Linked DNA regions of Homo sapiens: all the other regions are reported to be linked to region 1. Evidence: microRNA targets listed by miRTarBase, many of them from high-throughput screens and not tested one by one. Region 1 holds a microRNA gene; each other region holds the end of a gene's coding sequence.

What was found. The annotated mature microRNA hsa-miR-96-5p reads UUUGGCACUAGCACAUUUUUGCU and lies in region 1 at 4,507-4,529, shown strand. An mRNA with a match to its seed (bases 2 to 7 or 8) in the 3' UTR can be bound and repressed. Matches are read on the target gene's strand: a 7mer-m8 pairs with bases 2 to 8, a 7mer-A1 pairs with bases 2 to 7 and ends in A, and an 8mer does both.
Region 2: the mRNA of EFNB2 is a reported target of hsa-miR-96-5p. Seed matches in the 3' UTR shown: 7mer-A1 at 3,772-3,778.
Region 3: miRTarBase lists ZC3H15 as a target of hsa-miR-96-5p. The part of its 3' UTR that is shown has no 7-base or 8-base seed match.

Annotation. Positions count from the first base shown.
Region 1 is chr7:129,771,319-129,779,267 of GRCh38, reverse strand. MIR96 (microRNA 96) reads left to right here and starts at 4,499; the gene lies at 4,499-4,576. It overlaps MIR183 (microRNA 183), which reads left to right and starts at 4,254; the gene lies at 4,254-4,363. RefSeq lists enhancers at 1,484-2,330, 5,174-6,035, 7,762-7,949.
Region 2 is chr13:106,486,243-106,494,191 of GRCh38, forward strand. EFNB2 (ephrin B2) reads right to left here. Exons shown (of 5, transcript NM_004093.4): 5 at 3,503-7,186. The coding sequence ends at 6,798. LOC124903247 (a long non-coding RNA gene) reads left to right here and starts at 2,203. Exons shown (of 2, transcript XR_007063940.1): 1 at 2,203-2,393; 2 at 3,053-3,558. RefSeq lists enhancers at 6,238-6,738, 6,886-7,949.
Region 3 is chr2:186,507,786-186,515,734 of GRCh38, reverse strand. ZC3H15 (zinc finger CCCH-type containing 15) reads right to left here. Exons shown (of 10, transcript NM_018471.3): 10 at 6,374-7,192. The coding sequence ends at 7,002. Among named protein-coding and RNA genes, the nearest start is that of ZC3H15, 26 kb to the right of the region's middle.

The DNA of each region.
Region 1 (7,949 bases):
CAGACCTCCCGTGTGCCTCCACTTCGCGGCCACTCATCCCGGGAACCCCGGCGCACGCGAATGAGACACCGTTCCCCGCCCTCAACTGCCCCATTCCTGTTAATAGCGCTAGTGGCACCCAGGTTCCCAGCCCTTCCCCAAGATCGGCGGCTGGACGGCTTGCCTCTGGCGCCTCACCGGTCAGCGCATCCCAGGACTATGGGCAGTGAGGGTGTCACCCGGGGTCAGGGGTCGCCCGATTCCACGGTGTCCTCCAGGCTGAGCCATTCGTTTGCTCTTCCAACCCGGGCTCCCGGACACCGTGTACAGTAATACCCGCCGGGGGCAGGGGCACTGAGGCCGGCTCTGAGCGATTAGGGCCGAGGGCGGGCGGTGCCGTAATCGACCTCCCCACCCCCACAGGCAAGGTGCGGCGGCGCCTCCCAGGTTTGCGCCCGTCTTCGCAAAGCTCCTGAGGGCGAAAATCCTGCGAGCCAGGTGGCGGATTCTCGGGCCGGGTCACTCAGCTCTACGGGTGCGCATCACCCTCTACCTGTCACCCAGTGAGCCCGACCGATGGGCACCGAGTCGGCGGATCTCTGATCCGAGGCCGAGCCTTCGGAGAAATCTGTCCTAGTGGCCTCATCGTGGCCTGAGCGAACGCAAAGGAACCTGCCCCAAGCCCAGCTCTCAGCCTCGACCCCCACATTCCCCGCGCGGCTCTCGGTTCGGACCTGGGCTCGGAGCGGCAGCCTCCACCACTGCTCGTTTCTTTACCGCTCAAGGCCGCCCCTTCATGCTCCTGCGGGGGAGTTAGCGGGACCTCTGGAGTCGGCCTTACGCAAAGAAGAGAAAATTCTAGGATGCCGGCCTCACTTGTGAGGATTTCGTTTATTCTTTTTCTCCTACCGGGGCCCAGTGGCTCTTGGAGTGAGCTCCGCACCCCAGACACCTGAGTATTTATTTAATGGGTCGGTGGCGGCCTGGGCTTCGGGGAAAGGAGCTCTGGGCCCCTCTCCCAGCACCTCATGGGGACACAGGATGACAGGCGCAGCGTCCAGGGCATGCCCGTTCAAGGGCCCCAGCAGCCTCTAGCCCCTGGGACCTCAGGGGCATTTGATAGAGACTGGAGGGATCAGGACCAGACCGGTTGTGGGTGGCGCGGCTGGGACCCTGGACTCCAGATTCGTTGTGTAGAGGTGGAGAGGAGAGCCAGGAGTCGAGCGGTAGGCTATGTGCTGTCTAAGGACCCCGGAGTACCCATAGCCCAGAGTCCTGCAACACTCACCTCTAACACTGGAAGGGGTTGGGGGCCTGCCCTTTGCATTGGGCACCAGTGCCCAGGAAGGGACACCCCTAGGGGAAAGGGGACTCGAGTTTTAAGAAGGCCCAAGTAGAGTTCAGGAGGGTGGGGCTGAGAGCGACCGAAGGTGGGAGGGGGCGCTTTGTGGAGACCTCCTAGGATGTGTAGGACCCCCACACACCCTGTGAGTCCCTGGCTGCCCAGCCTGGCCTGCAAGTTGCATCTCTTTTGGTCCTCTTCCATTGCCAGGCGCTGACGCCCAGCGGGTGTGGGAGACCTTGTCTTCATCTTCCCACTCCAGAAGCGGATTTCTGTGCCTTTGATCTCAAGGTCAGGGCTGTGTCCTGCAGGGAGGGCAGAAGAGGCTGCTATCCTGACCTGCGCCAAGCCATAGGCCTCTGTTTTCCCTTTTGAGATTCCGAGTGGGGATTCTGCTGCTGATGTCGGAGAGCTCCTCTTACCCGCTTTTCGAGAGAGCTGGGAGACCTTGCTTCCCTAGGGCCCAGGCCCCAGCCTCCCTCCACCAGGATGGAGAGGCCCCAGCGGGCGTGGCACCCCCCAGGCACTGCGGCACTTGGGCTTCCTGTCGCATTTGGGTTAGGAGGGGTGAGGCAGGCGCAGGGGAGGAACCTGGCCCAGCCGACTAGAACTGGAAGTGGAGAGGGATTTGGCTTTGCGAGCTGCTCCCTGTATTCCATCCTATGTCAGTTACAAAGATGAGGAAAACAGACCAAGGAGCTCGACAGAGATGCCACAATTTGAAGGAGCGTACGTGTTTGGCTGCTTTGTTACAGGGCTCTCTCCTCTACCTGGGGTCCCTTTTATTCCTTCCTGGGCTGGGGAGAGCAGAATCCCTGGCTCCATCTGTTCTCCAGCTCTAAGGCCTCTGTGGCTCCTTGGTTGCAAGGTGCTGCGTGTTCCCCTTCCCTAACACCTGCCTCTCCCCATCCTTGGCTGTCCCCAAAAGAAGAATGAAGAATTCTTTTTTTTTTTTTTTTTTTTTTTGTTGTTGTTGAGACAGAATCTCGCTCTGTTGTTGCCCAGGCTGGAGTGCAGTGGTGCGATCTCTGCTCACTGCAACCTCCACCTCCCGGGTTCAAGCGATTCTCCTGCCTCAGCTTCGGGCGCCTGCTACCACGCCTGGCTAATTTTTGTATTTTTAGTAGAGACGGGGGTTTCACCATGCTAACCAGGCTGGTCTCGAGCTTCTAACCTCAGGCGATCCTCCCGTCTCCCAAAGTGCGCTGGGATTACAGGTGTGAGCCACTGCGCCCAGCCAGAAGAAAGAAGAATTCTGCATTCTGTTTAATTATCCCAGGGTGAGGCTTCTTGGGAAAGATTTCTCAAAATAGATCTTCCCACCCCCACCCCCACCCCATGCTGAGCTGTCAGGGTGCTATTAAAATGCAGATTTCCAGGCAGGCTCAAGAATCTACATTTCAACAGGCTCCTTGGGTGATGCTTATGGCTACACCCTAAGCAATGTTCATAACTACCCACCCCATACTCTTTGCTAACACCCTGCCATCACCCCTTCCCCTCCCCACCCAAGGCTGGGAAGTCTGGTCTCTCTTCCTTAGTAGAGTTCAGAAAATTGTAGTAAGGGAAACTGAGGCAGAAGGCTGAGGAGTGACTTCCTGAGATCACCACCTCATCAAGCTGGATTGTCCTCTGGGGAGATAGACCAGCTAGAAGGGCAGAGCCCTGTAGTGGGGGTGTGTGGGAGCAGGACAAAGAGTCCTCGGGAGCAGGAAGGGTGGAGCATTAAGCAGTGTCTAGGGGAGAGCGGATGGCTTTGGCCAAGGTACCCAGATGGAGCTCTGAGGTCCACGGGAGGTAGTTCCTGGGGGTAACATCGCCAAGAGGTCTGCATAGTTTCTGGGCCAGGGCACCTGCTCTGACCCTTCCAGGATATTTTCTAGCCACCCTGCCTTCTGGGCCACCGCTGACCTGGAGTAGGCTGAGACTCTAGTGGCCACTCTGCGGAGGCCCCAGCTTGCCTGCCCTGGGTGCCAGCTCCCCAGAGACCCTCCCTCCCACCCTCTCCCTTCTTCCCGTCCTTCCCCAGGGCCTGTGACACCAGAGGCAGGGCCTCCACAGCAACTTCTCTCTAGGCAGCTGCTCTGGCAACCACTGATGCAACCTTCCCAGCCCCTCCCTCGCTCCTGAGCCTCCGCTTTCCTCCGCAGTCACTCCAGAGCCAGCCAGGAGCCACTCCCTTGCTAGAGTGCATCCGTGCCTCCGGCTCCCTCCAAGCCACCTGGGTGGCTGCAGGACTTCTCTTCTGCCCTCCTTTCCTGGCCTTTTCCTGCCTTGATCCTAGGCCGGCAGCAGAGATGCCCAGCCTGGGCGGTTCACAGTCTGGCCCAATCTGGTCTGGTTTGGGATGGGAGTGGGGGTGAGCAGCAGATTCGGTTTGTTCCTGGGGCTCTGTTTCTGCCACAGGGCAGGCTGGGGGGTGGAGGATAATGGAGACCAAAGTGCCTAGGAGCCTGGGCTGCTGGTGTCTGGGCTCAGAGGCTACGAGAGGCATCTTGGATGTCCCACTGGTCACTGCCCCTGTGGCAGGTTGGGTAGAGAGGAGGCTCTGGCCAGCTGCTTGCCTCTCCGAGCCAGAGTTACTCTGGCAAGGAGATGGATGGTCCTGACCCACTCCCTCCCCAGCCTGGAGGCGCAGTCTGGGTGATGTGGAGGGATGTGGGCCTTCAGGTGGAGATAGGAGACACCTTGGTGTGGTCTTCTCCTCTGCAAGGCCAGAAGGTCAGCTCCTCTCCCGCACTGTCCCTGTCTCCTTGAAGGTCATCTTGGGCTGATGGGGCATGTGGATCTTGTGAAGAGGTGGGATGGGGTGGGGGGTAGAGACCGTAGCAGCCGCTGCTGAGGGCCTGCTGGGGGGCCCCCAAGGGAGTGGGCAGGCTAGGAGCAGGGAACGGGCATCGTGGGCCGCTGGTCTCTCCGCAGGGTCGGCAGGCCGCAGAGTGTGACTCCTGTTCTGTGTATGGCACTGGTAGAATTCACTGTGAACAGTCTCAGTCAGTGAATTACCGAAGGGCCATAAACAGAGCAGAGACAGATCCACGAGGGCCTCCGGAGCACCTTACCCACTTCTGCCTTGAGTGCTCCTAGACGTCGGAAACAGGCTGCTTCCAAGGGTGCAGGGATGCAAGGCCCCTCGTCCAGTGTGTCCCCAGAGAGCCCGCACCAGTGCCATCTGCTTGGCCGATTTTGGCACTAGCACATTTTTGCTTGTGTCTCTCCGCTCTGAGCAATCATGTGCAGTGCCAATATGGGAAAAGCAGGACCCGCAGCTGCGTCCGCCTCCCCTGCATCCTTGTGTCAGGGCCCCAGCCTGCTCCTCCTCAAGGCCTCCTCACCGCCTCCCCAGCCCATCTGGCTCAGCTGCTGTGTGAGGGCCCAGCGCTGGTGGGCAGCCAGATCGCCTTACACTGCCTGGGGCCACGGTAGAGCTGGGAGCCCAGCAATCTGAGCTGGGCCAGCAGATGGGGCCGCCCAGGGCAGAGGTGGGGGAGTCTGAAACCATCTGTAGGGCCATCCTGAATGGTGCCGTGGGTTGGAAAGGCCCAGCCAGGCTCCCAGCACACGCTTGGGGTGAGACCTTGGCTGGCAGCACAGGGCCTGGTCTTTTCTGCTGCAGGTTGTGAAGGGGGCAGCTCCAGGCAGGTGGGCTGCCCTTGAGGTCAGCCTGGGTGTTTCCAGGGGGGCTACCGTCTCTGGAGCTGTAGCCTGCTGTGGAGTGGGTCATCTCCGAACAGCTCCAAGAGGAGGATACTTAGTGGGGCTCGGAGTTGGAGGGCATTTTCAGGCCTGCCCCTAGAAGGTTCTGGAGCAGAGGCCAATGTTCCCCTTCACACACCACACACTGGTAATGTAGCTTCCTGGGTCCCTGGATCTGGGCTATGACTAACTGGCCTATGCTCTCCATCTGGGTGTCAGGTGACATTACATATATAATCCCAACAGTTCCCACCTCAGCCCTGTGGGGCTTGTAATTTTTTAAAATAGTTATCTCATAGATGGGGAACCTGAGGCTTTGAGAGGAAAGGCTTGGCTGAAGAGGTTGGTGAGTGGTAGAGCTGGGTCACTGTGGCTCTTCCGCCACCAGCCACACCTTCCATGGAGGCACCCAGGGCCTGGAGGTGTCTCAGCTCTGAATCTACAGGCCTGGGCTCCCAAGGATGCCCCAGATGGCAGAGACTGAGGCTGGGAGGCCTGGACCTAGTCTGTCAAAGCTGGGGAGAGCCTGGCCAGCCAGGCTGGACCCATGTGAAATCTGGTGGTCAGCAATCAAGCAGGAGACCAGTGGCCGACTTGGGACCAGCTGGGAGCTATCATGCCCCAGGTCACTGGGCCAGCCCCTGATGGGGCTGCTTCTCCCCAGGGAGCCTCAGGCAAGGGTTGGTGGACTTAGCCCAGATCAGTGGGAGTCATTTTAGGTGTCTGAGCCAGGGAGTGCCCGGGTGGGGGATGTGTGTGGTTGAAGCTGGCAGCTGGAGGATGACGGGTCCAGTTGACTGCACAGCAGGAACATGGTGACCAGTGCTGCCTGCCTGGGTGCCCTGGGGACTGCCTTGGGTGGGTTGGGCCTTTTTTTTCTTGTCAGTTAGCTATCACCAAACCGCGAGGAGCCCCCAATAAATTCCCTCTGGGGTGTGGTGCCCGTGTTTCTCTACAGAAGCTCTCCAAGCCCCTGCAGAAAAAAGGAGGGGCTTGTTTATTTCAGGATAGAAGGGGACTTCTGCCCTGGTGAGGTGTCCCTGTAGCTAGGTCTCTCTTCTGATGGCCCCAGCTCTCCCTCTGCCCCTCGGAACCTGGCTGGCCTGTGCCGCACCCTGTCTCTGTGCTCCAGTCCTCCGCCCCGGGTGCTTCCTTAGGGCGTCCTGCTGCAGGTCCCATGGGATAGGAAAGAAGGGATTTCCCGGCCTGAGTGAGAATGAGCCCTGGAGGTGGGGTGGGCACAGAGACCCAGCAAGGGGGGGTGGAAGGCCCCTGGCAGTGACCGGTTCTAGAGCTTTTCCCTGGAGCCTCTGGAGTGTCTGGCCAGGGTTCTGCTCCTTCCTGCCTAGCGGGGAAGGCCGGATGACAGAAGCTGCCCTCAGCCCCTGGGTGGTCTGCAGCTGGGCTCCACCTCCTCACACCTGCCCAGGTGGGCGCCTTTGCTGAGCCCCGAGTGCAGGCACTGGTGTGGGGGCGTGCCTCCACCAGGCTTCAGGCCCGGCTGCTCTGGGGCCCTGCTCCAGCGCTCCAGGGGAGGACCTCAGGCCAAAGCTAGTTTCTAGATCTCCTAATTTACCTAGTTCCGGGCCAGACCTGGGTGGTGAGTTCACCCACAACAGTGACTGTCCCAGAGAGTGGGGGCCACCACAGCTGGCCCTCCTCCCTAAAGACACAATTTCCTACCACCCAGGCTGGGGGCACTTAGGATAGGAGAGGGCCCCTCTTCACCTCCCCACCCTGCAGAACAGGTCCTGGATCCTCCCTTGTGTGGCTTCCAGAAGGTCTGTGAGATGGGCAAAAGGTTCTGCCCATGATCTGTCCAATGGTGTCCAGTGTCAGGCAGGAACGCTGTCCCACTGCAGCGAAGGCCTTTCTTGCTGGAGCGGGAGGGTCACTGAGAAGCACTTTTTGCTTTGTTTTTCTGTTTGTCAAAAGCAGCGGCTCCCAGATGCCCGGGTTTAGGGCGTCCCCCATGTCGGGCACCTTGCTTGGCCTGTCTGGGTGCGTGGAGCGGCAGGAGGGGCAGCTCCCTGGAGGGCTGTATGAGTGGGTTTTCCAGACTCCCCGCCTCCCCCACCACTCCATTTGCTTATTCATTCCAGGCCATTATCCCAGCCTCTGCCCAGCCTCAGGCGGGTCGAAATGCGATCCGGCACCATTGATCGCCTGCAGCCCCAGGCTGCCGATGGAGCCCGGCTGGTGCGGCCACAGCTGGGTGGGGAGGAGGACAGGACCCCCCACATACACACTGGAGGAGGGTGGGAGTGGCCTCCTCAGCAAGTCCCAGGCTTGGGGGCTCCATGGGACCAAGAGAGCCCAGTGCTGCTGATGTCCCAAAGCAGGCCCGCCCACCCTCGGAGAGGCTTCCAGAGTCGTGCCTCTGCTCAGAGGCCAAACCTTCCCCACCAAGCCTCTCCTTTCGGGCAGAGGTGTCCTCCCCAGCGCCCAAGCCCAGGCTGCCGGTCCGGTCTGGGTGCCACCGAGGTCCTGGACTTGGCCCTGGGGATGGCCTGGATCTGTTTGCATCTTAAGCCATCATCCCATCTCACTCCACCCTAAAGGGCAGGCAGGATGGGAGGGGTGGTGGCGGTGGCGGCGGCAGCGGTGTCATTTTGGGGGCCCTGCCAAGTCAGCTGCTCCCCCAGCCGGGGCATGTTCGGAAAATGAGCCTGCTCATGGTGGGCCCATACTGCCCAGGAGGCTTGAGGGCAAAGAGTCCCTTCCAGGCTGCAGGGGAGGCATGGGGATGCAGGGTTGGGGGCAGGCAGCCTGCACCCTTGCTAAAGGCTTGAGATGCCTTCAGGACACTTCAACACCCCTTGGGAAAGGACCTGGCCTCATCAGGGGAAGTGGGAACACGGAAGTGTGCTGCCCTTGGGTAAGTGACTGGCGGTCTGGGGAAATGCCACTCCGAGAATCAGATCGCAGCCAG
Region 2 (7,949 bases), not on the chromosome of region 1:
CCACTGCACAAAAATGATATACCTGAAGAGGATTCTTGGAGTATTCAGTTTAAGATTCTAGGTAATTTTAAGCAATTTGCTTTGAGGAAATTTATCTCCCCTACTGTTCTTGGACGTTTTAAGATAAGAGTCATCACGCCTTTTAAAACACACACACACACACACACACACACACATACACACACATACACACACACACACACACATAAACACATACACACATACACACACATACACACATACACACATACACACACATACACACACATACACACACACATACACACACCCCTGTAATCTCTTTATTAAGCATGAATGGCACTTAGTTAAGAAATAATAGCTCTATTATCAACTAAAAGATGTTTCTCAATTCTACAGTTTTCTGTCACAGACTACAGAATTAGAGGTGTAAATAATAAAGGAGGGATAAGGATGTGTTCCAGATACCAGCATGAACAATATTCAACAGGAAGTTAAATTAATCTTGAGTCTACAAGGAAGACAAAGTCAAGTTGGGCTAAGTTAACTGGTGGAAGGGGACACCGTGACCACCCGACACGTTGCCTGGCTCGTGGTGGGTCTTTATCAGACAGTCACGTAGAAGAGTGTAGCGAATGTGCTCGGACCCCGCCTGCAGTGGCCTGAAAATGTTTTTAAATAGAGATAAATGATTCCACTTAACAATTAGAGGGAAGGGCTGGCAACACCAGCTCAATCCGTACATATACATCGCTGGTTCTGAAGTCTTTTTGGATTTTGATTCTAGGGAGGGGTGAAGAGCCGCAGAGTCCTGGACCCCGGGCCCTGGGCAGCGGGTTCTTGCTGGAGGCAGTGGGTTCTTGCTGGAGGCAGTGGGTGGATGGGCATGCGCAGCTAAGAGGTGGGGCCGACTGGGCACCACCTCCGCAGACTTCAGAGCTGTGTCTGCAGCACACTAGGACACGGAGAAGCTTGCATGGAGATACTTTTGTACAGCTGAAAATGGTGATGGCTTTTTGCTGCGAATCCTGCAAAAAGGCAAAAGCGACCTTTGGTATCTTAGAATCCATCCCTCTCACTTTACAGGTGAGGCTCTGAGGCACAGAACATAAAAGGATCTGCTGAAGGTCACAGCATGAGTCAGTAGCAGAAATACAGCCAGAAACCAGGTGCCCCTTTCATGATTTAACACCTTTGTTAACTGTCTACAACTGGCCAGAAACTGTGCTGCTATAATTAGTATTATTTTCCTTGTGCCGTATGCCTGTGTACCTGGTGTATACCTGGAGAATTCTTGAGGGGGTTGGTTGTTTTTAAAGATATGGTTGACTTCATATGAACACTGTTTTAAAGAGATTCCACTAATCAAGTTATCAAAGTATAAAAATCTTAAGCTGCATGTATCGTTAGCTTTTGGGACATATCTAAAAATGGATTAACCTACCTGGTTTGCTATATTTTGTTACAAATAATGCAATATTTTAGTACCCCCCCCTCAAATCACTGATGAATGATTCTCTACCTGGAATAATGAATCGGAGTAGGAAATACTCTTTTCCATGACAACACTGAAAATTTGCCTTCAAGTAAGTGTATAGTGTAAATATCACAAACGTAATTCAAAAATCCATCCAAAGTAAAAACCAAAGCAGTAGCACATCCAGGCTAGTGTCCTTGGTGCTGCAGTAGCTACTGTGTCTCCTGAGCCACCTGAGACCTATTTGCTACCCAACCAAAAAGTAGGGTAATGGTCCTTTTTCTTTTTCTTTCTTTTTTTTTTTTAACCTACATTAGGAAAGTGAGTTTTACTACTCTGGAGTTTACTTTTTCTCTTGCTAATTCTTCTCTGGGTTGGGTTCAGAGACTGACAGTAAGCTGGACAGCAGTTACCCAGAAAGGAATACTTTATTTTTTCTCATTTCCATTGCGAACCTTTATCCCAGGGTTTGAATGGCCATCTGCTTTGCCAAAAAGGGAGTTGATAAGAAAGAGAGCTGGCTGCTGGCTGAGGGACGCTCGCCTGTGCAGAGAAGTAACGTGCTCAGAGCAGGCTGGGCTCACCTTTGAGACAGAACAAAGGGCATCTGGTTATACGCCCTCTGCAAGGAGCTTCTGCGTGTGTTCCTTCTTCCCAGGTGAAAAGAACAAGTGGACAAATCTTGTTTCTTAGCTGAGCTTGGCTTACTCAGAAAACGTGGTTTAAAAACAGGGTCCAAACCATGACATTGTGTATTCGGTAATTTATGTTGTAATAGGTACCACAAAGTAAAGGTTGAAAATGCATGATTTCACTTTGGTTCTTTTCTTTTGCCCAAACTAACTAGAAATGACCTTGGTGCACACGGTCGAGGGTTCAGCTTAGTGGCTTGGCCATAAAATTGCATCCATCAACTTGGATCTGCAACTGAAGGCAGGTGGGTGCAGCAGGAGAAAATCCTGGAACAGATGAAACTACGATTCTACCATCCACGAAAACCCTGGGCCTCCGGGGATTGTTGTTGTTGCTGATGAAGGGAGGCATTTATTTAACAAACATTTCTCTAGTACAAGTACTGTGCTAAGCTGTGTAGATCCCTGTGTCCAAACCAGCCTTTCTTCATCACCTATGGACTTTTGAAACATATGGTTTCTTCCACTGACTGGGGTGTGGTCCTGGGCAAGTCAGTCAGACCTGGGAACTCTTCTGGCTTGCTTCCTGACTCCAGGGGCCTTTTCCTATTCTCCCTACCTAAAATGTCTCACTCTTATGGCAGGGATTAACCTGAGATAATGTAAAGATGTTAGCACTCAGATCTCAAGGGTGTGAAGTTCTCTGCCATGGGTGGGGACTCTTGGTTGTTTAAAAAGCTACCCAGGAAGTATAGTGATCAGTCTTAATACCCAGGACTACAAGAGGCCTGAAAAACAATCACACCCCTCAGGGTACATAGTTACCTTCCCCAGGAAGATGACCACTGAAAGTGTGTTTTAAACTCACAGCTGGCCTCTGGCTTGCCTTCAACCAGTATCTCAAAATGTGCTCTCATCAATGTTAAGTTTTTACAAAAACATTTGACTTTTTCCTTCTCCCTAGGATTATTCTGTTAAGAAAAATGAAGCGATAGACCGCTGCTTTGCTTCTATGGACACTAGATCGATCTGGAATTAAGTGTAAGATAAGAGTACATTTCCCTCTTTTTCCTGAGACAGCTAACTTTGTAGGTAACTATTCTGACTGTGCAATTCAGGTGCCACTAGAGAGATTTTCTGTTGAGGATTATTAGGATTTTATACAATTGCATATTATTTTTGAAATGAGAGTTTGTGGTTTTATGGGGAATAACGAGCTCACGGCTCTTAGCAAAATTAATATTTGTGTGATGTGCACATCCCGATTTGAAAAGTGGGCACACAGTGTCCATAGACAGAAGTCTCTGGATTAACTGTAATTTTGGGGGAAATAGAGTAAAGGAAGGCAAATTAAAATAACAAACAAAAAAGAAAGAAAAATGAAAAGAAAAGAAGAAAAGTACTTTGAAGGCACTTTTTCCATAGGAAAAAAATATTTTATTTTTTTAAGAACAAATTCAGTTTGAAACAGATGTGGAATGTGACTTCACGGATTTCATTTTCTGGGGCTAACTGCAATGTGAAACTAAAGCAGATTTAAAACCTATGACAGGCTATTAAAATAAAACAAAGAAAGAAAAAAATATTTATAACTCAGGCATAATACTGTGTTACTTACAAATTGGACAACGAAATTTTAAATAAATATTCATGGTACATAATTACGGCACAAATATGCAGCAATTTGGCAACCTTTTATACCATTTTTTCCTCATTACAGTGCAAAGGGGAATGACACTGCCGTTAAACAAGCTGTAGCTAAATACATTGCAAAATTCAGATTTTATACAAAACATCTTGCTTAGACTTTATAAAAAACCAACATTGCTCTATGTACACAATCTGGGTAAGAAAAGCCATTTCTTTCTTGTTTTCATGTGTATTTTTATTAAAAAGGTGAATAAGGCTACTGTAACACCCCAAATCCATAGACAGTAAAATCTGAACCTATTTACAGCATCTTCACTGAAACATGATGGTGCAAATTCCAAAGTCGGGTGACCAGGGACGATCATACAAGCAAGGCATTTACAGTAACTTTCCAAAGCTAAACCAACTTCAAACAAAGGGACAGTTGGTAGATTGTCATATTCTGCACCAGACACAAAACAGACGCACAGAACACTTTTCAATTGGTTGCAGGGAACTCTTTTATCAATTCATCTGATTTTTCACAGTTTAGCATAGAACCAAAACGTAGCCAACTGATGATACATACATTTGATTTCATTAAAATCAGACTATTTCCCATTTTTCCCCTTCTCGCCCCTCTCCCCCATCCTAAAAGTAACTTCTGATGGCTTACAAGAAACTCTTGCATGAATGCACAGAAAGGAGAGGTTGGGGTGATGGAAAGAATTACATATGTACTGTGGCTGGTTACCATGGCAACCCTCCACAGAAATATGATATAGATATATATAATATATATTGTAGATATATATTATACATATATGTACACATGTATACCACGCACCCACTCACACATACACACACGCACTTTGGACCAACATCATTTCCAGGTTCAGGAAATAGAGGATCATAATTTCTGTGACAACTCATTTTTGCAGGTACTCACTGGAGGTCTGAGAACCTTAAAATGCTGTCGCTACATTTTTTTTCCCTTCCAATTCAGAAAGCAAAGTGTTACCATAGTAACAGGACTATGTTAAAGATGTCTATTTTGCATAGCACATAAAAAGTAGGTTTCCTGTTTACTCTTCTTGTTTCCCAGAAGGGAGGGGGTGCGGGGGAGGACAGGAGGAGGGAGCCACAGCTAAATCGTCACCTGAAGCCCCCAGTGTGACCTGCTGGATTCTAGAGAACACTTCAGCCCATAAGGCAAGGGAAAACCCAACGCAGAAATAAACGCCGGAACATCTTGTCATTGTTAAATATATGATGCAGTCACATCGGCTTCCTGCTCTGTGGGGCTCGTACTTCCTAGTCTACGGTTCCGTGAGATGCCTTCGGAGGACTTGGTTATTTTTGCATTTGCTCTCATTATTGTTCTTTTTGGAATGATGTTGTTTTTCCCAGAAGTAGCTGTCCAATTTGTTTTTTTAAGCGCTGAGCATTGGGACCACTTAATTGCCACAAATGAATTTCACATCTTCTGGTGTGTACTGTGTGCAACCTTAAAATATATATTAGTAAAAATCTTTCATTTTATATCCCTTGTGTTCTATATACCTATTATAAATACGTCCTATCTTCCTTCTCCCCCTGGACATCATAATTTACTTCCGTCTTAAGGACTCTAAGAGGTCTGCCGTATGTGCTTCACCTTGACACAGAGCACCGGGCGCTGCAGCCTCCATCAGTACCGACCCTGCAGCCCTGGCACCCGGACAGCACCGCATAAACCAAAGTGTCGTAAGGCTCAATCGGGAGGGGAAGGAGGAACCTGGGGGGAGGGGGATCTGACCTACCTTTTATAGATAAGGATTCTTTAATAACAACGATGATGATGGAATTACAGCCTGTTTGACCTTTGGCTTTTCAACTTTTAGGTCAGATTTGGCTCTCTGCTATTCTCCTAAATGCTTTCCCTGTGTTTAATAAAATGTGATAAGTATAGCAGCTGAGTCTGCTTAAAAAATCATCCAAAGCAGACCGACTCTCCTACAGCTCGGAGCTGTGTATCTTATTGCCAGTACCACAACAGTCCTGCCCGAATATATCATCAGCGGCCTACTTTCTCCCTTCCCTCCAAGCCTGTTCCTTTCCCAACAATACCCGTCTTTGTTCCCCGGAATGAAGAGGGGCTTTTCTTCCTGCACATCGCTATTTGATAACAGCGAGTGCCTCCCCATGCACTGGAATCCACTGTGTGTGCTGTCGTGTCTCCTACTGGCCTCTTCGATCTCAGCAAAACCAAAGTGCTGTGCTACCTAATTGCTTTTTTCTTTTTTCCTTTCCAACTTTCTGTTTCAGAGGCAGCAGCAGTGAGCTGCAATTGCAGCCAGCCCTTTCCCCAGCCCCACTCCCTTCTATGAACTCCTAGCCTTCTTCGCAGACAGCCTAGCATCTGGCTAAAGGGCACCTTGTTAGCAAACACAATTTCTATGAACGGATTACCCATGGACTGAAGCTGTTGTTGCCAGCGGCTGGAGGAGGGGACTCCAGACATGAGTGTTCCATGAGTGATGCAGATGTGGAGTGGAGGTCTCAGGTGAGGTGCTGCAGAGCCCTGGGTAACAGAACGAGTGAGACAGTAAGGACTAAACTCTAGAGATCTTTGCACACCTTAACTAGCCCGAGGTCCGTGTGACAAGTCCGGTATGCACTGCGGGGGAAATGCACCCCAGGCAGAAGCCGGCCCTTCCAGGCGTGGCATCCTGGGGCACCTGCCAGGATGCTCACAGCCCTCTCGTCCACAAACCACTGTCTTCCCTTGGCTTCTGCAGAGGCCTGAGTGACCGCAGCACATGGCTTCGAGGAGGAGACGTGGGACGCGGCACAGCAGTCCGAATGGGCGTCTTCTGCACAGTCTTCCAGCTTCCAGGGAGCGTGTGTGTTCACCAAGGCCGAATGCTACAAGACTAGGTAAGCTGTCCAGCGCGACGGGCTCTTCCGAGGAGGAGTGTCCCTCTCCCCCGGTGCTGTGCTTCAGTCAATTCTCCAGCACGCGGGCTCTCAAACCCTCAAGGGAGGCATCGGGACATTAGGTGTCCTCTGGGAAAGCACAGGTACCACCAGGGTCCCTCTCAGACCTTGTAGTAAATGTTCGCCGGGCTCTGCGGGGGCATCTCCTGGACGATGTACACCGGGTGCCCGTAGTCCCCGCTGACCTTCTCGTAGTGAGGGCAGAAGACGCTGTCCGCAGTCCTTAGCGGGATGATAATGTCACTGGGCTCTGAGCCGTTGTTGTTGCCGCTGCGCTTGGGTGTGGCCAGTGTGCTGAGCGACAGCGTGGTCGTGTGCTGCGGCGAGTGCTTCCTGTGTCTCCTCCGGTACTTCAGCAAGAGGACCACCAGCGTGATGATGATGACGATGAAGATGATGCATCCTGAAGCAATCCCTGCAAATAAGGCCACTTCGGAACCGAGGATGTTGTTCCCCGAATGTCCGGCGCTGTTGCCGTCTGTGCTAGAACCTGCAGACGCGGAGACAGAAAAGGTCAGAGATAGTTACTGCTGTCCCAGTGCAGACGGACTGCTTTTATGACCCTTAAAAATGTGAAAAATAAGCCAGGCTTATTACTAACTAGAAGCTGGACTTTGCCTCGCCAATACCTCGTCTAAGAGCTCAACGCAAAAGGAAATGAGAGGTATCTCTAGGAGGGACTTCCCTACCCTCCCAAGCCACAGGGTTTCCTTTGTATCATTATCCAGCAAGAGCACAGACTGTCGGTGACAGCCAGCCCTTGATCTTGCTTCATCTTCTAACCCGTGTCAGCCAGCCTGGGGCAGCGGCAGGGAAGAAAAAGGGAAGTGGCCAATTCTCCAGGTCAGCGGTGAGCGTTTATGTGGTATTGCTCTTCCGCCTCCTTTGAGAAAGGGAGTTTCATGCAAACCTTCAAAGGGCCTGCCTTCTAAAGAAGAGCCCTGCCTCCTGGCAGAACAGAACAGCTCGGGAACGCGGAAGGAGTGAGGGGGCCTGGGAAAATGTTCAGCTCGTAACTCGTCTGTATTATTTGATTTACACTTAAAATATATTTGGAAGGCAGCAGAAACTCTCACACCGAACAGACTGCCAGCCCAAATGTTAAGCACTAAAAAACTGCCTGGCATCATTATATTATCCATTTATCAGTTTGTCACAAGAATTTGACACATCTTGTCATTGAAAGTTAGAAATAACAACTTCCCTCCTTGACTCTTGGAAAGGGATGGAATATTGCTGCAGACGATAAATTT
Region 3 (7,949 bases), not on the chromosome of region 1:
TTCGTATAATTGTACAGATTACATAATCAAACTGGGGGGGGGGATGACATCTGAACAAGGAATATTTGGCTCTTAATTTTTAGGATTTTATTGTAGTTTATCCCTTATTAGCGATAGTTGATTGAAATTAATTGCCAAATGCCTCTCTGGTGAGTCATATTCCGCAATTTTGAAATAGGGAGGTCAGCTAACTCTGTGTGGAAGGGAACTGTGCTACCTTTTAAAAGTGTTATATTTTACATTAATGCATTCAGAGTGATTTAAAAGGCATTCAACATGATTATTCAATATCAAGAATATTTTGTTATCTCTAGCTATAGAAGTCTTTGAGATTCTCCCTTTCTTTTACATGCACATGACACTCACATGTAAAGAGTGAAAAGTACATTTATGTACTTGCCCAGAAGAAACCTTTGATTTTGTGCAAATGGATTATCAAGAGAACTGATTCTTTAAATGATATTCACTTGTTCCTTGCATTCCTGTATTTTTAGATAGTATTATTTTTGTACAGTAGCATGCTGTATATGAACACAGAGGTATATAATCATTAGCATGCTATAGAACTATGTTACTGTGAATCCCCCCACAGCCTTTTAAACATTATGAGGTGGTAGTTCACTTTTTCTCATCTTCTTATAGACAACTCATATGTGTTAATACTTCTGTCTCTTCTAATATTGATTCTGCTTTCGTTTTTTTAATAAAGGGTAAACCTTCACCCTTTATACAAATTTTTTTTTTTTTTTTTTTTTTTTGAGACGGAGTCTCGCTCTGTCGCCCAGGCCGGACTGCGGACTGCAGTGGCGCAATCTCGGCTCACTGCAAGCTCCACTTCCTGGGTTCACGCCATTCTCCTGCCTCAGCCTCCCGAGTAGCTGGGACTACAGGCGCCCGCCACCGCGCCCGGCTAATTTTTTGTATTTTTAGTAGAGACGGGGTTTCACCTTGTTAGCCAGGATGGTCTCGATCTCCTGACCTCATGATCCACCCGCCTCGGCCTCCCAAAGTGCTGGGATTACAGGCGTGAGCCAGGGCGCCCGGCCAAATTTTTTTTTTTTCTTTTTTTTTGAGATGGAGTCTCACACTGTCACCCAGGCTGGAGTGCAGTGATGCAATCATGGCTCACTGCAACCTCGAACTCTTGGGCTCAAGCAATCCCAAAGTGCTGGGATTACAGGCATGTGCCACTGCATTGGCTTCACCTATCATACCATTTGGATTGTTATACATGTCATCAATCAACAACTACCTAATAAACCTGCCAATTAAATAATTCTTAGTTGTTATCCCTAATGTGAATTAAATATATACAAATATTTAAATATAATAATTAAAGAGAACTATTTGCTGCCAAAAACCTTCTTGGAAGAGAGAACAGGGGTGGGAGTGGTGTGGGTGTCAAGGTATAGATGGAATCTCCTGTACATAAGGCATATCATACATCTAAGAGTCCTTAAAAGCTGCATTTTAGATAGTTGAGGCTTTGCCCTTCCATTTAGAAGGTTGCTCTGGGAAAAAGTATTAAAAAAGACCAAGTAATTTAAAAATGGCCATGATTAGCTTGAACTTGATTATATACTTCTTCTTAGTCCTAGTTTTTCTTAAAACTAGACTGAAGATATCAGTGGTATCTGACAGGCTGACGATATCAGTGATTAAGTTTCTTCCCTACAGGTGTAGAAATAGGTCTGGAGTGTAAAATAATAATTAACCACAAATATACACAATTATCTATTCAATCAAAAAAAATTTTTTTTAAGTAAATTAAAATTTTTCTTTTCCTTCTAAGGTGAGTCATTAGTGCAATAAGTGTAGGAATAGATAATAATTCCAAACATATCTGAAGAAAATGGTCCATGGAGTGAATCACCAATGTAGTTAATTAGTCTGTATACAACTGACAATGTATCTCCACAAATTATCTAGTTTTTCAATGAAATATTCTCAAAATCAATTTATCAAAGAAGATTTAATCATCCCCTTCCCTGCTTTTTTTTAAAGAGATAAGGTCTCAACTATGTGCCCAGGTTGGAGTGCAGTGGCTGGTCACAGATGCAATCACAGTGCACTGCAGGCTCAAACTCCTGGGACCAAGTGATCCTCCCGCCTTTGAATCCAGAATACCTGGAACTACAAGCACATGTGATTGCACCTGGCAGATTTAGTTACTAAAATTTTTACTTTCAGTACCTATTCAGCACCGTGTAAAAATTCAGGAATGAAGATTCCTAACACATTGGATTCTACTTCTCATGCATTACATTTCTCTTTTAAGTGAAATATGTCCAATATATACAATAATGCACAATCATGAAGTGATCCATATAATTACTATATTATATACTATACTTCTAACTTGAGAGGTTTTAAATACTTTTAATTATAAATTCTTTGATATATTTCCATACATGCTGTAAAAACAAGGTAATTCAAAATACGTAATCATCAGTTAAATATGGTAACATAAAAAAATTCTTAAGTCATATTGATGATCTTTGTCACTGAAATATACAGTTTCCTAAGACTTAGATAAAAATATAGTTTAAAGGAGTCACAGGTGAAATGAAACACATTTGGAATGAAGCTGATATACGGTCCTTTGAAAACACCCTAGAGATTAATTGGCAAAAAAAAGTAGTTAGTATTTCATTGTCTTTTGGTTTATAATATAAGGCTAACTACATAGGAATCAGGAAACTAAGTCCTGATGCTTAAGTCCCATAAGGACTAGTTAATTTTACATGTATCTGTTTGAAAACCAGATCAGCTGTAACAGAAATGTATGCCTCTGGGGACTGAGTACAAAATAACCACCTTTGTCTGAAAAATGTCCATCATATTATCTTCACAAAGAAAATCTTTATTAAAAAAAAAACTCACTCAATGAAACTGAATGTAAAATACTGGAAAGTCTAATTGAAAAGGCATCTTTGTTAATGGTCAGGAACTTACTAGTTCTGCCTTATATAGTTGTGATTTTCTCATTCTAACATGTATACTCAAATCAGGCTGAGACCATGTCTTAAACTGTCATATAGTTCATGCAATCTATAGTGCCCAATACAAGTGCTGTACATGTGGCAAAGCACACAATATTAATGAAATTAATGAAAACGAATCTCCTTTTCTTTCGACATTAACAAAGAGTAACAATCAAAAAATACAACATTAAAAGGAGAAAATGTGAAAATACATTTTGTACTATTATTTCATTTGGGTTTGTTTCTAAAGTACTATAAAATTTTGCAGATGTTGTCAGATTCTAGTTAGAGTTCAGCTTCTCGTAATTTCTACTAATTGAAAAGTAAAGTGTTATCTTTATTCTCAGAGAACACCTATCATCAGTAAGATATATGCTTAAAAATAGAGACAAAAACCCAAAACACAAGATTTTGGGAGTTTATCCTCTCATCTGGTATGCCTTGAAACGAATTTATTACAACATATACCTGAGTTCATATGATATGAATGGTGTGCTAAGTACCTAGAAGCATTAACATAATATTGTATGTGGATATATATATGTATCAGCATCACAGTCTTATACTTAGGTAGAAATCTCTTCTGTGATTCTGAAAGTTCTTTATACAAAGTTAACTACCCAGAACAAGAAGAGAACTCATATAATAATTCTACTAATTATCTGTATGAACGTCTGCCGTAAGTTCCCTTTGTCCACTTTATGTGTTAAAACCTGATAGATGCAATGCTTTCTCAATGATCTGATCCTGTAATCTCACTGCTATCACATTCTGAATCACTTAACGGTCAGCGCTGAATAATACACATTAGAAATATATTGTACCATTATACAATTTATATCAGTCCATTTATATCAGTATGATGGGCTTACAGCATCTGATATACCATCTGTGCAAAAATAAGGTAAAATTCACAATGTAACTTCAGTCATGCACCGCTTAACTAAGGGATATGTTCTGAGAAACACATTGTTAGGTGATTTCAGTTGTGTGAACATCATAGTTACATAAACCTAGATGGTAAAGCCTACCATCTACCACTATATGAAATATATGAAATAACCTATTTTCCTAGGCTGCAAACCTGTACAGCATGTTACTGTACTGAATACTGCAGGCAATTATGACACAATGGTATTTGTGCATCTAAACATAGAAAAGGTAAGGTAAAAATACAGGTACTATAATCTTATGGGACCCCTTTGTATATGTAGTTCAGAGGCAACTGAAACTTCGTTACGTGACACATGACTGTATTTTAAATTTAGAAAGATTCTGGCAAACATGGGATCACTATAGGCTGTAATGGTTATTTATATATAAATGGGTTTGGAAAAGTAGAGCCAATTTCAGATTAACTGTACCAATACTGAGTAACTATACTGAGAATACAAAAATTATTTCTTTAAACCTCTGAAATGTACTATAATTTTAGAAGCAGATTTATTTTTGTACTTTGATTGTCTCAGATTAAAATACTTTTGCATTCTCTGTGCACGTATTGTCTTAATAATGGAAGAAATTTCAGGGCAAGGTAGAGGAAGGCCACCCAGTAATTAAAGACTTGCAGGTATAAAAAATTACCTCCACATTGAACCATTTTGCTTTATATCTATACACTTACTAAAAAACACCTTGACTTTTGAGATCACATTATTTGCTGTAAGATAATACTGTTTTAAACACACCTAAAGTCTTTCAGCATCCTTTTGTTTATATGGCCCTACTTTATATACAGGATAAAAAAAAAAGCCCCCAAACTTAAGGTCGAAAGCAAGGGTGTCCAATCTTTTGACTTCCCTGGGCCACACTGGAAGAACTGTCTTGGGCCACACATAAAATATACTAACACTAGCGATAGCTGAGATTAAAAAAAAAATTGCAAAAAAAAAATATCTCATGTTTTAATTAAGTTTACAAATTTGTGTTGGGCCACATTCAAAGTCATTCTGGGTGGTATGTGGCACACGGGCCTCAGGTTGGAAAAGCTTGGTCTGAAGTAAATGAATTCTAACTTTTATTTATAAGATAAATTCTTAGAAAATGTTTTAGATGACTTCAAAATAGAAAAAAGGTTTAAGCTCTTTAGACTATTCTGAAAATGTTTCATTATTAAATAATGCAGTAAGTACCATTTAAACTTTCACAAAAAAATGGAACAAATCTTTCATGAATAAACTTTAAAACTCAAGCTTTTTAAAAAAATATATAAAGTATATATAGGAAGTATTTAAGTACACTTTCATTGTAGCTGGAAATAAACTTGGCTCCTGATGTTCTATATTTAAAAACTGTCAGTTGTATAGTACTAGTACTAAACAGCTAGGAAGTCAATTTCTTTATCAACTTTGATGTTATCATTTGACAAGATTTGCAATCATAAATTTCTTAGGCTTTACAACTTAGAAGTACGTTAGTGATCATTCAGTCTTTTTTTTTTTTTTTTGAGATAGAGTCTTGCTCTGTCGCCCAGGCTGGAGTGCAGTGGCATGATCTTGGCTCACTGCAACCTCTGCCTCCTGGGTTCAGGCGATTCCCTTGCCTCAGCCTCTTGAGTAGCTGGGATTACAGGCATGCACCACCATGCCCGGATAATTTTTGTATTTTTAGTAGAGATGGGGTTTTGCCATGTTGGCCAGGCTGGTCTTGAACTCCTGACCTCAAGTGATCCGCCTGCCTTGGCCTCCCAAAGTGCTGGGATTACAGGTGTGAGCCACCATGCCCGGCCAGATCATTGAGTCTTAACCTTAATACGCAAATAAAGAAACTAAGATTCAGAGATTTAAAAATCATATAATTTATCGGAGGCAGAAATGAGATTAGGGTCCAGCTCACCTGACATTTTAGTGCTGTTATCTTAGTTGCCTTAAAATCCATTTATATTCGCAAATAACAAAAGCAACATATTATTTGAAAATACAAAACATAACAATAAAAAAGGTGTAGCTAGTACTAAATATGTCATTAGCAAATTGTGTCCATTTTAAATGTATTATCACCCTAATTTTTCAGGGGCTCTTAGTGCCAAAGACCCTCAGCCCAAAGTTTTCTGGTGAATTTGTTTATACTTACAGTAGTATGTACTATTTTAACACCATGAATCTCAACAAACAATTCTTAAGCATTACTTGATTCAACTGCAGGTGATATTTAATTTGGTTGATGTTGTATCAATTCAGAAGTTACTCTTTTATATAACATCTCCTAAAGTCTCTTTTTGGAAGCTTAGTATTTGTGTTATTAAACTCATTGTAGTACTGTCAAGTACTCTAGATGCTTCTGTAGTAAATATTAAGAAAACATGCCTATGTGATATTATAACAGGTATTTAAAATTCTCAAGCTAGAAATGTTAAATTTTTCATAGAAAAACTTAAAAAAAGGCCCATATTTGGATTTTAATGTATGATGGTCTTTATTTACAACTTTATTGGCAAAAAAGAAAAGGGAAACTTTTAAACAATTTAACACAGGGCATTGTAGCTGATCCTGTCAGATAAAAGAAGTTCCATTTTAAATGTCCATCTAATTGTCCAAAGATACACAATACTGAATCTGCATACGCAGTTTCCTTTATGAAGTACAGTGCTCATGTTTTAGGCAGTCTTCTAAACATACAAATACAGAGGAAATTAAATCACTCATTAAAAACTGTGTCAAATGAAGGGTATTTTAAATATAAGTTTGTTGTTTCTGGTAATAGCACATGCCCAAATGAAAACCAAAAGATGGAAAGGCAGATACACTTCTTACTTGGGTGGACAGTTACAACATCAATCATTTTCTGCAATGACCATTATATTTTCAATTTATCATGAACTACTCTGAACTTACTATGAGATGTAGCCAAAGTCAGAAGAGAAGATGTAGGGACAAGATGCCTTTTTTGCAGGAGGTTAACTCCTCCAGAATCAGCATAGGAAATAAACATCCTGTTGATTCTAGGTGGAAAGAAATTAATGTAGTCAATTTCAACTCGTGCTGAGCTGACTTAATTTTTTCAGCGATGTGTTTGGTGTCATTCTTCTAAATCAAGTGTATTTAATTCTTCTTCTAGTTCATCCAAATCCTCTCCAGTGAAAAGATTTTCATCAACAGGAACAGCATCAATGGCTCCATTTTCCGTTCCCTCCCTCTCGTTGTCCTCTTCCAAGTCACTTCTTTCACCATTTTCAGCCCTACCTCCAGAAGCTTCACTTAATTTGTTTTCTAAATATAAAAACTGGAATCAGTAAGGCGTAGAAGCAGAAAACACCATTCCACATTAGCAATAGACAACATAGACTGATACTACACTTCCTCTTTTCCTTTTCTCCATGAAAGCCATTTCCCCAGAATTACTCCAGCAAGAACTGATCATTCTTTTCTGAGCTTATCTGTGCCAATTATCTATACCTACTATAAAATACTGTTTTTCACTGTAGCCATTTGACTACTTAATGGTTTATACATTTGAGGGCAGGATCAATCTTCTACACCTCTGTGTTCCCTACATGACCTAGCAATTAGATTTTAAATAGTCAATTTCCATATAATATTTTATTTGACTAAATGGTTATGGAAACCAAAAAAATGTTTGTAATATAAGCAGCTACTTGGCTTTTGGTTTTGCAAATAGTATTTAAATCATGCTGTTGTAATGCTGTGATTGTGACAGCAGAAAATCTTCATCATGTAATCAAATTGTTAAAAAAAAACATAGTGCTATACAGCTACTTTTTCTTATAGGTTATAAATAACTGAGAGAAAAAAAATGCTGCCTTTTCTTGTTCAATGCCATTGACAATTACACAGACATTTTTTAACAGCCTAATTTAGATTTTAGTTATTTCAAACATCTCTGATGACAAAGTCTTGGGAATTTTATAATCTCTGAATTATTTGCAGTTGTGCCTATTGTCACCAAAGCCCCTACTTCTACAAAGAGCAAGTCAATCTGAATACTGGCAAGATAGTGGTTTGCTAA